Linked DNA regions of Homo sapiens: region 2 is linked to region 1. Evidence: fine-mapped expression QTL. Tissue or cell type: whole blood. Region 1 holds a variant in brackets; the other region holds the start of a gene. All regions are shown on one strand. Distances are from middle to middle.

Region 1 (8,104 bases):
AGGCCCATCTCCCACCTCTCAGCAGTGTCTTCATCCTTTAAATAGAGGTCGGGATGGTAGCCACCTCGAGGAGTTAAGTATTACATTGAGAAGACACACTTACACAATGCTCAATAAAAGTTATTATAACAAATAACTTCAAGAAAAGTGGGATCTCTTTCCCTTCTGTTAAAGACAAAAACCTTTTGCAGTTATTATCCCAGTAGCTTGTACTGTGTCCTCCACAGATGTAGGACTTAGTTTGAAGTAGCTAAAATACTGCTTCACTTTTCCAAAAATGTATGCCCGTACCATGCAGTCATGGAGGGAGAAACTAAACAGTTTTGGAGAGGTTGGTTGTGGACAGCAAAGCTCTCTTTAACAATACCCTGGACAGAATTTTAAGGCAAGGCATTGTGTTTGCGAATCAGTAAGTATTCCCTGAGTGTTTGTGTGTCTTGCCATTTGTTGTATAAGTTAAGCTTGTGTGTTTCCTAATGGGAAGGATATGCTTGTTACAAATATAAATTTGGTAAACCATTTTTAAAGTGAGAATTTTAATAAGCCTTTACTAGTGATCTATTTTGGTGAATTTGTTTTCAGGATTATTGTGCAACAAAGTGGTCCATTTTGCGGGAACGCTTTGACCGAGGACTGTACGCCTCTCATGCTGACCTCCACAGGCTTAAGTAAGTACTAGAAGGTCAAGCCCAGGGCACTCTTAAGAACCATAATGCAGTGTTGGCCCCACTGGCTTGCCACACCCTGGCCTCAGTCCAGCTTCTTCTCACTCACTGTTCTTCCCATCTACCCTGGGCCCCTTTCAAACGGGACAAATACTTGTGCCCAGACATATTCCGTATCTTTTTTGTTTTGGTCACTTTTACTGTCTCTTACCCCTGAAATTCCCCTGTTCATACCTTTGCTTGTTCAAGTCCTGCCCAGACATCAGAGTCCAGCCAGAGGCTGTCCCTTTCCAGTCTTCCTCTGTCCCCTCAATCAGACTTCATCCCTTTCTCTGAGTCTCAAGAATTCATCCTACCTCGCCAATGCATTTATCATGTTCTGCTTTTTCTGTTGCTTTTTAAAAATCCCCTTTCATTGTAAGTCACTTAAGTGCAGACACTGTATCTTACTAATTATTGTATCTTATTACTTGCTTAGCACAGTGCTTGGCAAAAAATAAACCTCTAATAAATATTTAGAGTCATAGAATATCAGAGCTGAAGAGAACCTTCCTACCATCTCATTTTATAATAAACTGAGGTACAAAGAGGTTGGAACCTGTTCAGTATTCATTCAAGGAGTACATGGTGAAATGCCAGCTGGAAAAGAAACCTATCTCAGGGATATATGACATTATGCCGAGACCGGGTTCATGCACTGATTGATTTGACAGGTGAACTGCTCCATGTTGTGGGACCAGGGATGTGAAGCAAGTACATCAACCTTGAAACGCGCGCAGTTGGTTTGGGAGAGCCGGCCTGAGGAAGCCCCTGCCCCAAGGCTGCCCACAGAGGGAAGGATTGTGTGTGTGTGTGTGTGTGTGCCATCTTGACAGAGTGAGTCAGTCTGACTTGCCTTTGTGCTTGCCGTTTGTAGGTATCAGTGCTTCAAATCGGCCTGGATGTTTGAGGTGTTTCATAGGGGCTTTTCGTTTCCTGTCAACTATAAAAGCTTAAAGACTGCCTTGCAAGTTTACGACAAGGAGGTTCAGTGGACCCTTGGAGCCATCCTCTACAGGACCCGCTTTCTACCATTAAGGTAGGGCTGTGAATTTGGGAACGAGAATCAAAAAGATGCTTTTCTGCAGTTACAGCACCTCATGGCAGCTGTGGTCTGTGGCTGTTTGGGGCATTGCTGTTAGAGCCGGCCACGGCAGAATTGTAGGGACAGTGACGTTTGCTTTTGGTCTTGCCCCCTCCCCACAAGTGCTTCCTCCCTTCTCACCCTACCATCCCGTAATACACAGCACTCCTGTCCTACTGCCCTGTGTTTGGTTATTCTCAACTGTCTGTTCCCCAGCCCCGGCAAAAGGGTCAGTTCCGGGGTTCTTAACCTTTATGACTCAGGCCTCTTCTCCAAATACTGTTTAAATGCATGTATAAATACATAGGATTACAGAAGAAACCATCATATTGAAATAATACCAAAATATTACAGAAAACAAGTTTGTGATACTGTAATATGTGTTCTTCTCTATTAACACATTAAATAACAGGATCTGGCAGCAGAATTAGCACTTTCTGTAATTTCAGTGTAGTCAATGAGCGTCAATGATATTTTGAGGCATTGATGATACCATAATGGGACATGAAAGATCTGTGATTTTCGTTAGTAACAAAGTTGCAGGTGCTGCCAACGCTAATGATAGTTTGTTGTCTGCATTCATGGTCAAAGAAATGCTACATCTCAGTCAGCGCTTGGGTAGAACAAAGATGTGCGTTTTTCCCCATTCACGTTTGCAGATCTGCTGTCAGTTGACCTGTGCTAAGAACCTGAGTTACCTGATAGATGAGACATTTGCTCTTCCCCCCACCCCCTCCATTTAATTGAGCATTTCTCAGCAACCCTTTTAACTGGGTTAACTGTAAAAATGGTGAGTCATGGGTGTTACTGATCACAAGCATGCAGTTTGTTTACATGTTGACTTCTTTGTATCAGCGAAACCTTCACGGCTCTTCTAAATTCCTCTGATTTTGGTTGCCCAAATTATAATGACCGACTTCAGAGTATACTTTCACATGTTATCTCACTGATACTTAGAAGCCCCCTGCATTGGGCTGTTCCGTTCTCCATTTCAGAGGTAGGGTTGCAGTTCCTAAAGTGCAGCTCTGGGGCCTGGGTCCCGCCGTCCCCCTGTGCACCCTTTCCACCCCTTTCCTTGCTTACTGTCCTGTTTGTTGTTTGGTGTTCACATGGGCAGAGACATCCAGCAGGAGGCCTTCCGAGCCAGTCACACCCACTGGCGGGGCGTTTCCTTTGTCTACAACCACTACCTGTTCTCTGGCTGCTTCCTGGTGGTGCTGCTGGCCATCCTGCTGTACCTGCTGCGGCTGCGGCGCATCCACAGGCGCACTCCCCGGAGCAGCTCGGCCGCCGCCCTCTGGATGGAGGAGGGCCTTCCCGCCCAGAATGCCCCGGGGACCTTGTGATCCAGCTCACAGCTCCACGAAGACTCAAAAGGAAAAGCCATTTTTGCCTCAGGGTTTCTCCTCTTTATTTTCCTGTGGTTTTGTTTTTTCTTTCCCTTTTTTGTTCCTCCAAACAAAAACAAAATGCAGGCCGAGCGCGGTGGCTCACGCCTGTAATCCCAGCACTTTGGGAGGCCGAGGCGGGCGGATCATGAGGTCAGGAGATCGAGACCATCCTGGCTAACACGGTGAAACCCCGTCTCTACTAAAAATACAAAAAATTAGCTGGGTGTGGTGGCGGGCGCCCGTAGTCCCAGCTACTCAGGAGGCTGAGGCAGGAGAATGGCATGAACCTGGGAGGCAGAGCTTGCAGTGAGCCGAGATCACACCACTGCACTCCAGCCTGGGCGACAGAGTGAGACTCCGTCTCAAAAAAAAAAAATGCATTGTTTATAAGCCCTGCTGTCTAGAAGTATTGCGTTTAGCCATTTTGAGTACAGCATTAAATTGAGGAGTGGGGAAGAGGGAAATTCACTTGATTTTTGCTGCACAGGATATCTGCCAAAAATAAATGAGATTTCTGGGGTTTCTCTAAGGAATGTTAAATTTAAACACATGCACTTTGATACTGGAGGGAGGTGGAAAGATGCATTCTGTCAGTGGAGAGGGGACTGAATAGTGATGCTTTCATAGAACCAAAAAACTTACTGCCTGAAATGATAATCCTCTTTTTTCTCTATCTTGAAAGCTCTAACCTGAAGAGGGTGATTTTTTTTTTTATTTATTGTTCAGGTCTGTTACTGTATATGTTTTCTTTGCAAATTTAAATTTTTTAAACCATTTATATCCAAAACAGAGAAACATGGGCACCAGGAGATAACCATTTATAAAAGTGATAGTGAACTATCGACTACAGCTTTGTG[C/T]GAGTGTGTGAAAAATCCCAAGAAACCAGCGTGAGGGGAGGCAATGCTGGTTCTTTAAAAACACACACTTCAGAATTTACTGGTACATTTTATTTAGAAAAATCCTCGTTACTGTTATCTTTTCCTGACCGCAGGTAATTACGCTCCTTATTCCATATTTCAGTGGCATTAGAACACTGTGGTTTTGAAAGAATTGGAAATTCCTAGTTTCACCAGTTTCGGTTTTATTGGAACTAGAGCACATGCCCACTTCTTGCTCAGTATTCCTCAGTGTTTCTGCTTAATCGTGCCTCAGTTTCTTCCAGCTTCCAATTGGTGTTTCCCCCACCCCCCTTAATTAAAAGTCATCTCAGCTTTTAATCGTACTGGGAGACCCCATGCACAGCCTGCCGAGTCCTCTTCCTAACCGCATTGACTGAGGCTGTTGCTGGCAGCACCACTGTAAATCCAGAAGGGAAGAGTCTGCATCCAATACAGGAAATAAATTCACATTTTGAAGGAAAAAATTCGACAATTTAAGCCAAAATCTAAAAAGGACAATTGGATTGGCATATGTGAGATTGGTGTTTTTTCACCTATTTATTTAGTTGAGAAGTTTGGGGAATTCTCGTACAGTTTTTTTAGGTGGAGTTTGTTTTGTGCGAGTGTCTGTGTGTGCTGTTCCCTAACTCCAGAACAGTTAAATTCCTGTAGTTGGTAGCAGATTAGTACCCAGAAGTGGGGTTGTTGCTATAACAGATAACTGAGGATATTATAAAAGTGGCTTTGGAACTAGGTACTGGGCAGAGGCTGGGAGAGTTTGGAGAAACAGGAGAGAAAAGGCCTGTATTGCCATGAACTGAGCATTAGGGGCAGTTCTGCTGAGGGATCAGAAGAGAAGACCAAGGGAATTCTGTCCCAGTTGTGGCTCAAACTGCCTCAGGTGCAGCTTAACCTGCGTCTCTGGAAGGTAAAATGCATCTGATCCTTGAGGCAAGAGCTGTGGGGGCATGGCTCCCTCACCTGGATTTCAAAGCGTGTTACCAGCAGCCTGGGGACCCAGGCTCTGCCTCTGGATTTACCTGCATCGTATTTGCGCTTCGTGGTCAAAGTTGTTAAGAAAGGGGTGAGCTTCTGGCTACCTAATAAGTTGGTCTTGGCCACCTGCCTGCGACACTTCCTGGAGGAGCCATGGATTATTGGTGGAGGCTGCAGGGAGCTGGCGATGGAGCCACTGGTGTCAGCAGCAGAGAGGGAAGAAAGGAAAGGAAGGGGCCACAAATGGTTGAAGTGGGCAGGTGGGCACCCAGGGAGTTAGGGGACCCCGCCTTCCAGCTCTGGGCATAGAAGAGTTAGTCACATACCTGAGGATCCTGAAACAAGGGCTGAGAAAACCTCATTGCTCCAGCTGAGAGGTAGTAGTGGATTTGCCATTTTTAAACAGTTGCCTAAGAAAAAACGTTGAAGAATATGCAGCAGACACTATATGTGGCCTGTAAAGCCTAGAATATTTACTAAAATATTTACAGAAAAAGTTTGCTGGTCCTTGTGAGAACAATGCAGTTCAAAAAAGGATACAGACAGAAGCATCCTCTTAAATCAGGAATGTAGTTTCCATTTGTGGGCACGAAAAGATGGACAAGAGAAGTAACCAAACTTCAATCTTAAAATATTTGTTGCACCAGAATTTCACTTCGGATTTTTCCGTCTAGATTATTTTCAAGATGAGTTTTGAAACAAACCAAGAAACCTGCCCCTCACCCAAAATTGTTTAAAAAGAGACCACTCAAGGGAGTTCATTATGCCGTATGGAGATGTCTGCAGTCGCAGCAAATCACATTCCAGAGAAGGTCTCGCGTAGGTGAAGACAGCCAGGTGCTTTCTCTAAGAGATACAGGGTGGGTGAGAGACAAGCCAGGGAGGATCTTAATTCAAGAGAAGAATTCATACCAAGAGCTGACCAAGAAGGCAGTAAATTCTGTGTACTTGTAGCAGAAGAAATTGGACTAGGAACTTGCCCAAAGCTTTATCAAAGAAAAGCATTGTGTTCAATCTTGGTAGAAACATGCCAGCAATAAGTGCTTATGTTCCATAGCCATATCATGGGCTTCTCACTTTTAAACCTCCTCCAGGGGATGTTCTCAGACATTTCACAATCCCTCTGGGGACATTACAGTAGAAGAGAAACACATGGAACTGTACCAGTGCTTTTTGCCCATGTTCATCCTAAGCTCCGGCTTTAGGCAGTGCTTTCTGACCTGGGCGGAGTGAAGACGCTGCTGGTGGCTGAGGCCAGTAACATGGGGCCCCTGCCCAGCCACCCTGAAGGCTGGGTAGGTCCCTCTTTTCACCACCAGTTTTCCACATCTGTGTACTCTAGATTAACAAACTCTGGATAAACAGATATTTACATTTTAAACTCAGGCCTACACAGAGTAGTTTTCCTTATAAGGAGCATGTATCACTTAGCAAGAAACTAAAAATGGCAAATGAGTTTTTCATCCTTTAAGAAAAAAATCAGCTTTAGAATTCTCTGCGGTCAGTTGTGTGCAATGCAACAAAACTACCTTTCAGTAAATTACTTAGTTATTTATTTCAGTGTTTTGTTTCTTTTGATACTAAGTTTCCCTTTCAATAATGAATGATGTGACCAACCAAGGAGAATTTGTTTGTTCTGTACTAAAATTATATTTTACAGTTAGGAATTATAAAAAGCAAGGGAGCATCTTTAAATGTTTTTTGTTTAAGCGATGTCTTCCATCCAAAGTAAGAATAATACTCTCGGAAGGTCCTTTTGGTGTCATGTCACTTGCTGTATGTGGCAGCCTTACAGTGCCACACTTGGGTACTGAAAAATCAATAAAACGAAAGTTCATCATCCCATGGCCCGTAGACTGTGTGGGCTTGCTTCCTTGTCATCTTTGAATCTTCTTACTCATTAGAATGATGAGTTGAACTTGAGTCCAAATTCAGTGAAATACATTGTCTGAGTCTGACGCACACTCTTTGCATGTGTTGTGTTGGGTGTGCATACAGTGAAGCACAATTGTGTGGGGTTGTGGAGAGGGCGTCCACACTCTCTGCAGCTCAGAAAGCAGATATTTCACAAGTAGTGACCAACCCACGACGTTAAGCCATTCACCAACAATAATTGCCACTCTGAGATGACTGTTTATAAGGTCACCATTTTAAGTACCTACTTGTATATAGACAAGGAAAAGTAATAAAATTAACCAATTTTTATGTATTTAATAGTAACAGCAAATGCTGACTTTATGTTACACTGTTTTGCAGTTCGATCTAAGCTTAGAACCTTTGGCTTACTTCCAGAAAATTATGACTGTCATTATTAATGTTACGTGTTACCAATATGGAGGATGACATTAGACGCTCAGCATGTTTCTCAGCCGTTGGAGAATACATAGATGTTCTCCTGGAGCAGGAAGGTGGGCCTGAGCCATAACCTGAAAATAGATGATAGAGACAGATGGGAAGGGAAGGGGACCAGCTGTTAGGACCAACAAAAATAAAGGCCTGAGACATGCCGGAGAGGAGAGGGAAGCGCAAAAACAAAATGAGAGAACAGAGCCAGCAAAGTGAGCTCAAGGGAGGTCCTCAAGCCATTGATCGCTAGGAAAACAGGACACAGCATTAAGATAGAACTGTCGTAAATAATTTTTGAGGCAGTGCAATGACTATAGGGCTTTTTGCCTGACTTTAAATACGTTAAAATATCTAAGATGTTAAAAGACATCTAAATTTTTATTCCACTTGGTGGAAGAGAAGTCAGTGCCTATTTCCAACACTAACCATGTTGACAGGTCTGAAAAGCCATGGTTCTGTGTTTTTGTTTTCAGTCTGTTTCCATTTGTCCTATGAATTGGCATGTGCCCTGTGGGTTTTTTTGGTTTTTTTGAGATCCGGAAATGCTAATGGTTTGCACAGAGGGGGTCGTGAGGTGCAGGTCACCTCTGTCAGAGTCACAGTGTCTTCTTTTGGAAACGTCATGAAAAGACAAAGGAGTGCCCGGCTAATCCCAAAGCACGCCTTGGCAGAGTGGATCTGCCTGGAGCATCCATCCGTGGCAGC
Region 2 (8,104 bases), 28 kb after region 1:
CCGGCTACAGCATTGGCTGGGCCTCCCTGGAGCCTCAGGCTATGCCTACTGGGACATGCTATGCTTCTTTCAATCTAAGTCGGTCCAGACTGGTAGGAGAGTGATTTGGCAAGAGAGTGCAAAAGCCAAGGGAAAAAAAAGAAAGAATCGCCTCTAGCCTTTGACTCAGTAATCACATTCTGGGAATGGATCCTAATGCAGTAATTCACATGACCCCTGGGGATGGGGTGGACAGGAGGTGTTGCCTTCCCTCTCCCTGTGTGGGGTCTGAAGCCCTGAGGGACAAGGAGTCACTGTGCCCTCCTCAAAGATGCCCTCCTCACAACGCAACATTTATTGTCCAAGTACCATACGAGGGACTGTTCTGAGTCTGAGCCCATTCAGTCCTTTTACTCCTTTGGAGCTTTTTTTTTTTTTTTAACAGATACCGCTTTGTCACCCGGGCTGGAGTGCAGTGGCATGATCTCAGTTCAAATGCAGCCTTGACTTCCTGGGCTCAAGTGATCCTCCTGCCTCAGCGCCCCAAGTAGCTAGGACTACAAGCCCATACCACCACGCCTGGCTAATTTTTATATTTTTTGTAGAGACAGGGTTTTGCCATGTTGCCCAGGCTGGTCTCAAACTCCTGGACTCAAGCAACCCACCCACCTTGGCCTCCCACAGTGCTGAGATTACAAGCTTAAGCCACTCCACTCAACCTCTTAGGAGCATTTTGAGGCGCTTCTTACAGATGAAGCATGTGAAGGAAAAGGGAGTTCACATCAGTTAATGGTGGAGCCAAGATTTGAACCCAGGCCCCCTGACTGCACAAGCATGCCCTGAACCTACTGTACGACTCTGCCTCTGCAGCAGTGCAGGACCTGAGTGGTGGAGGTGGCAGGGTGGGAGGTGTATCCAGACTTACAGACATAAGGCATCCCGCCATCATTTTGTTTCATCTGGGACAAGGGTCTACTGTTGTCCTGAAGTAGTCTCCTAGGTCTTGATTTCAATTCAACAAAAGGGCATCAATAAAACACTCAGTGCAAACTTCAGATACTCTACTCATTTCCTCTTGGAAGTGAGGACATGGTAAGGCAGAGATGGACTTACTGAGGCCTCCAGTGTGGGCCACTAATACTTGCTGGACGAGTCAAGCTCCTTTTGGTTCTCCCAGCTCGGCCATTCCCTGCCTCTGTGACGCTGGGAAAATCACTTCTCTGAGCCAGGGCTTTCTCATCTGTAACAATTAGCAGGAACCACACTGTACCCAATCAATAAATATTACTTTCACAGGGGTAATTGTCATGGCGTAATTTACACTAGCAAAAAGCTGTAAACAACTGAATATCCAATAATGGAGAAATGACTCCATTGCACAATAATTTCAGACCAGAACTGTCTAAAACCATTAAAAATTACATTGAAAAATTAACACAAAATGATATAGTAAAAAAAATCAGAGGCCAGGTGAAGTGGCTCACGTCTGTAATCCCAGCACTTTGGGAGGCAGAGGTGGGTGGATCACTTGAAACCAGGAGTTCAAGGACAGCCCGGCCAGCATGGTGAAACCCTGTCTCTACTAAAAATACAAAAATTAGCCACACGTGATGGCACATGCCTGTAATCCCAGCTACTCGGGAGGCTGAGACAGACTTGGGAAGCTGAACCTGGGAGGGGGAGGTTGCAGTGAGCCGAGACTGCGCCACTGAACTCCAGCTTGGGAGTCAGAGCTAGAGTCTGTCTCAAAAAAAAAAAAAAAAAAAAATCAGGATACAAAAACTGTAACTACAATTTGGTTGAACAAATATTCTGAAGGAAAGACTCCAAACAGTAGGTGTTTATGGGTGATAAGACACCAGAGTGACAATTTCTTCCTTACATTTTACATATTTTCTGAATATTTCACAAGAAGTTTGCTTTTCTTTATAACAGACAAAAGATTATTTACAAAGTTGGTCTCCTTTCATTTTCTACCTTATTAGTGAATGCTTTAGCAAGAGAGGGTAGGACTAGAAGTGGAAGGATGGGAGATGGGGAAAGGGGAGAGCTCAGTTTCACCAGCATTTATTGAGCATCTGGTACGTCCAGGCACTGTGTAGGGTGTGACAGCTGAGTGAAAGCTCAATAACCAGGCATTACTGTGCAGAGAAGCCAAGGGAATGTCACGTTCAAAGGTCCTGGGGTGTGAAATAGAAGGCTTATAGGAGCACAGAAAGTAAGGCCCAGGGGGAGAGGTGAGATGTGGTTGGCAGTTGGGCAGGCTGGAAATGCCCCAGAGGCCCTGTCAGCTTAATCAAGGGATTCAGATTACATTTTTCTTTTTCTGAGACGGAGTCTCGCTCTGTCCCCGAGGCTGGAGTGCAGTGGCGGGATCTCGGCTCACTGCAAGCTCCGCCTCCCGGGTTCACCCCATTCTCCTGCCTCAGCTTCCCGAGTAGCTGGGACTACAGGCGCCCGCCACCACGCCCGGCTAATTTTTTGTATTTTTAGTAGAGACGGGGTTTCACCATGTTAGCCAGGATGGTCTCGATCTCCTGACCTTGTGATCCGCCTGCCTCGGCCTCCCAAAGTGCTGGGATTACAGGCATGAGCCACCGCACCCAGCCAGGATTCAGATTACATTTTGAGGACCTTGGAGCCACGGAGGATTTTTTTAAATTTTTAATTGAAATTTTATTGGGTGTATTACGTTCTATACAATTTTATCACCTGTGTGGTTTTCTGTATCTCAAGACACTGAATAGTTCCACCACCACAAAGATCCCTCCTCCTGCCTTTGATAACTACACCCCCTTCCTCTGACCCTTGCCCTCTACTGCCCACCAGAGTCAGGGACTGATCAGTGGGGAGGGTAAGGAGGAGGCAACGGAGAAGACCCCATATCTGCCTGGGAGAGCTCACAGGAGTCAAGGTGGACCGTGAGTTGCAGTGCCAAGTTTGGGGCTTGCCAGGTTAGCTACGGCCATGGGAATGTCCAGGTGAAAGTCTTTCGGGGCCAATGGATTTAAATATCCATGGCTTAGGAGAGAAGCCTGGGCTGGAGGTGAGATTTGGGAGGGGTTTGTCTCCTCAGGGAGTGGAGTAAGAGAGGACTGAGGAAGGAGCCGCCTTTCAGGTGACAGTCTACTTCTGCACAGGGGTCCCTTGTTTTGCAGCTCGCTGCCTCCTTGGGACTGGCAAAGCCCTGCTCTTGCTTAAGGAGCCCTCTCTGTGCAGAGGGCTCTCCCAGCATGCCCATCCCCCACCCGGAGCCTCAGAGCCAGGCACAGGAGGTCCTTCTGCACAATGGCCACGCATTAGCTGTGTCCTGTTCAGTCCCCAAGCACAGGGCTTGTTAATCCCAGCCCTACCATTCCAGGAAGGACCCCAGAGGTCACGGAATCCAAAGCGTTGAATTTACAAAGAAGAAAACTAGTCCTCGGAGAAGAGGCTTGGCCAAGGCCATAGACGTGATCTGCTGGCCGAAAGGGGGCTGTTTATTTACTGGTTCAGGATCGGTTTTCCCCCTACAGGAAAAGGGAGGTGAAACCCAGGCGAGATGGGTGCAAGTTTCTGAACACTTTCATTCGGCAGCTTTAATTGAGCGTGTATTATGTGCCAAGGAGGGCCAGGGTTTTCGGGATAGGAGGTGGACAAGGCACGGGCCCTAAGGCTGGTGGATAAGGACATCGAAGGGTTAAATTCTGGGACGGCTGCAGGGAGGAAAGGGTAGAGGAATCTCCCGAGGAAAGGCCCCCTTCCCGGCATCTCAGGCTCCGGAAACCCGGGCGCGAGGAGCCTGGGAAGGGCTGCCCCGCAGGCCTTGGCCTCCCCCGCGGAGCTCCCTCTGGCCCTGGGAGTGGCCGCTCTCGAATTACAACAAAAGAGGCCGGAGGCCGGGCCTGCTGCGGCGGCCGCCTTCGGGGAAGGGGGTGGGTCCGGGGAGGGGTTTGCCATCCTCCTCTAGTTAAAAGTAAGGGGGAAAAGAGTAAACGCGCGACTCCAGCGCGCGGCTACCTACGCTTGGTGCTTGCTTTCTCCAGCCATCGGAGACCAGAGCCGCCCCCTCTGCTCGAGAAAGGGGCTCAGCGGCGGCGGAAGCGGAGGGGGACCACCGTGGAGAGCGCGGTCCCAGCCCGGCCACTGCGGATCCCTGAAACCAAGTAAGAGCGCTTCCCGCGCCACCCCCTCCCCGAAGCGGTTCGCGAGAAAGCGGGAGCGTCCCTATGGGGTCTCCAGGCTTCGTCCTGCGCGGGGCTGCCTCTCGACAGTGCCTGGGGGTTCCCAAAGACTTCTTGCGGGGAGCGATGCGAGGACGTGCAGGCTAACGGGTCCTCCTGCCGCCCCGGGCGGCCCCGCCCAACCCCACCTCGTACGGGCCGGGCGCGGCGCGGCTGCTGGCGCGCCCGGGGAGCGAGGCGCTGGGTCCCTGGATCGTCCCGAGCGCCCGTAATCAGGCGGGACAGAGCCCGTCAAGTCTCGGTGTGTGCTGGGCGTCTTGGAGAGTGCAGCGTGGCTCCAGGGACAGCGTCTCCGGAATTCTGGCTTTGAGGAGTGGGGCACGCGGGGGACGGGTCGGGAGACAGTGACTGCCCTCGGGGCTGTGGTTTTGGGGATGTAGAGCGTGCTGGGCTGGGACGGAGTGGGGGCGGGGACCCCGGGGGCTGCGCCCGGGAGCTGTAGCGTCCACTGCTTGAACCCGGTTCAACCCCCAGCCTGCTCGAAAGGCTGTTGGGAGCGCGGGAGCGCCGTGAGTCCTGCGGGAGCAGAGGCGCTCTCGGCACGCCAGGTATGCACTCCCAAGTCGCCCTGCCTCTCCGGGGACCAGGGACCCTCTCCCGCCTTCATCACCTAGAAGCCCTGGAGTTGGAAAGAACGGGCACGAGCGAACCCACGGCTACAGCTGATCCCAATCTTGAGCCGTTGGTCCGGTGGTCTGAAGTGCCTACAACTTTTACGCAGGCGCTTTGCCCACCGCGCCCCTTCTCACCAGCCCAAATTTGGAAGCCCTCTGGGTGTGGCTGCCTGCTCGAGGTGTCCCAGGAATCAGCGCTGGAATAGAGATGATTGGGAGAACAAGCGAGGTTCCCTCCTCTCCGTGCCCGAGCTAAGACCATCAAAAAACAGCCGGAGTGCGGGGCGGAGCGGGGCGAGGGTGTGAGGAAGAGAACACCGCAGAACACGGCGAGGGAGGGGGCTGAACTACTCAATATGGTTAGGAAACCCCAAGTCCTGATGAGGGGAGAGATGTGCATGACAGAAACATGCTCCAAATTAGTTTCGTCCCTAAGATCTTGAAACTGCAGAGATCTCAAAAACAATACTTTTTTTTTTTTTCTCCCAGAGGAAGAAAAACGCTGAGGCTCACGGTCACTGAGTTAGTCAATGTGGGGACTGAAACCCATACCTCTTACTCCAGGCCCCTCCCCTACACCACTGCTAGCCTGTCCGTCCTGGAACCCCAAAACAACATTTGTCATCTTTGGTGGAATGAATTAGTTATTGATGGTGTATCATGTACTTAATGGTCAGGGTTGGGGTTTAGGGTGGAAGAGGAAGAGTTCATTTCCCTGGTCAGTTCCCAGATAAGTGACTGACTCACTGGATCCTAACTTGACTAAATTTTTAATCTTTCTCCTCACCTTTGTCCCGTTCCTCTTCCTGGTCCCTAGTATCTGCCCTGGAATGGCCACCAGAGCCATGACAAGATGCGTGCTCCCCATGGGCCCCAGTGGCTACCAAGGCTCTCCCCAAGGAAATTGAGTCTCACTAATCTGTGTGTGCACGCGCGCACGTTTGTGTATGCATGTGTGCACGTGTATGTGTGGGCACATGTATGTGTGCATGTGTGTGTCTCCACACGAGTGTGTTTGTGTATGTGTGTGCACCGGTGTGTGTTTATATGCGCACACAGGTGTGTGTGCGCGGGCACGTGTGTGTGCACGCAATGTGTGTGCATATGTATTCCTGTGTGCATGTGTGCACACCTGTATGTGTATATGTGTATTTGTGTTTGTGTGCATGTTTGCATGTGTATGTGTGTGTGCGCGTTTGTGCACTTGTGTGTATGTGTGTGCACGCATGTGTGCACGTGTGTATATGTATATGTGTGTTTGTGCATGCATGTGCATTTGCTTCCCTGTAACTTTGTGTTAGAAAGTGACTTAGTCTAAGGTCACTTAGGCATTGAGTGGCAAAGTTGAGTATGAAACTCAGGTCTGAAAACAAAACGTACTTAACACCACACATTGGCTGACATTTTAAGTATCACAGATAGGAGATTCTGCAAAGATGCTTCCTTTTATTTTCTTTCCAACTGGCCTCTCCTGGCCTCTTCCCAAGTCCTTGTCCTTTGACCTCTAGATGGCCAGTGTGGAAGGGCTTTGTGAAGGAAACAGATTTTCTGTGCTCTAGATAGACATGACCATCAGCGAAGGTGTTGAGTCCCAGAAAACACTACATTGTTTATTTTTTATTCTCAAAAAATTTCAAGTATGCAAAAAAAGTAGAGAGAAGGGTATAATGATGCCTCATAAGCTTCTCACTGAATTTCAACAGTTATTTTGCCACATGTACGTCATCTGTCCCTTTGTTTCTGTCATTGAAGTAGTTTAAAGCAAATCCTATACATCATGTCATTTCATTGCTACATATTTCAGTGTGATTTCTAAAGATTTTACATAACTATGATGCCATATTTAGACCTAAGAAAACTAAAAAAAAAATATTTGGTATCATCTAATGCCAAATAGCAGTCTATATTTAAGCATTTCCCAATTTTCCTCAAAATGTCTTTTTTTATAGTTGATCTGAGTTCTGTTGATTTGTGTAACTTGTTACATTCCTATTGTTATGTTCTTCCTTTCAAACTACTTTTCTGTCCACTATGTCATTTGATTCTTACAAGGTCCCACTAAAGAGTTAGGTGAGTATTTTCAAATTCATTTCTCAGCTGAGGAAATGGATAAACAGATAAGCTGTCCAGAGGGCACAGCTGGTGACCCAGGGAGCCAGGGTCTAACCCAGCCTCCTCATGGCTGGGCTTCGGTGGTTCTGGTTCTCCATGTTACTCGTGGACTCTCAGCTGCTCTCTGAAGAGTTCTTCTTGGCTCAGGCTTCATCCTGGGCTTATCACTTCCTATACACCTGCTGTCAGAAATCCCTGTGTAAATATTAGTAATTGGACATTTGGTGCTTGAGATAAATGAACTGCAAAATCAGGAAGCCAGGGTTTGTTTCCTAGCTCATTGCAAAACTGTAAGGGCTCAGAGCTGCCCTCTCTGAACTAGAGAGCAGTGTACTTCCTCATTATTTGACTCCAAGGTGTAAAAATAGGATGAGTGAAATGACTGTTGCTGGGATTCCTGGAAGAAACAAAGGCCCCAGAAAGAAATCTAGTAGAGGACAATCTCCCCTCTCTGAGCATCACCTGAGTACTCTGACAGCTGGTACCTTCATGCTGAAGCCCTCAAATCCTATGACAGAGAAGTAGGGGTATATAGGCTTCCCATTGAAGCCCTTAGTTTATGCATGACTTTATTCTGCATTTGACCAATGAAGATATGCAACACCTGATATGGCTTGGCTGTGTCCCCACCCAAATCTCATTGTGAATTGTAGCTGTCATAATTCCCATGTGTTGTAGGAAAGACCCGATGAAAGGTAATTGAATCATGGGGGTAGATCTTTCCCCTGAGAAGTAAATCTCGTGAGATATGGTTTTATAAATGGGAGTCCCCTGTACATGCTCTCTTGCCTGCCACCATGTAAGATGTTCCTTTGCTCTTCCTTTGTCTTCTGCCATGATTGTGAGGCCTCCCCAGCCATGTGGCATTGTGAGTCCATTAAACCTCCTCCCTTTACAAAGTACCCAGTCTCGGGTATGTCTTTATTAGCAGCATGAGAACAGACTAATACAACACCAGAGCCTTCTGCTTTTAGCATTTTCATTACTTAAGTTTATTTGCTTTTGAAATGGAGCGAAGAAGAAATTTCTCCACCTTGTTAATGAGACTCATAAGTTGGAATTCTCCTTTCTTGGCAGATCATGTGGGAAAAAGGAATCTCTTGGCACAGGACTCCTAGATGTTCTGCTGTTACGCTTGTTGCTTTGAAACAGGGAATGAACAGACCTTCCATAAAA

Evidence for each region. PIP is the estimated chance that this variant, and not a neighbour inherited with it, causes the effect.
Region 2: LOXL2 starts here. The variant in region 1 is fine-mapped to the expression of LOXL2 in whole blood (TOPMed, PIP above 0.99).

What each region holds. Positions count from the first base shown.
Region 1 is chr8:23,427,956-23,436,059 of GRCh38, reverse strand. ENTPD4 (ectonucleoside triphosphate diphosphohydrolase 4) reads left to right here. Exons shown (of 13, transcript NM_004901.5): 11 at 583-668; 12 at 1,582-1,743; 13 at 2,906-6,898. The coding sequence ends at 3,134. Among named protein-coding and RNA genes, the nearest start is that of ENTPD4, 26 kb to the left of the region's middle. The variant C/T (reference allele first, on the strand shown) is at 4,037.
Region 2 is chr8:23,399,974-23,408,077 of GRCh38, reverse strand. It overlaps LOXL2 (lysyl oxidase like 2), which reads left to right and starts at 3,958. Exons shown (of 14, transcript NM_002318.3): 1 at 3,958-4,124.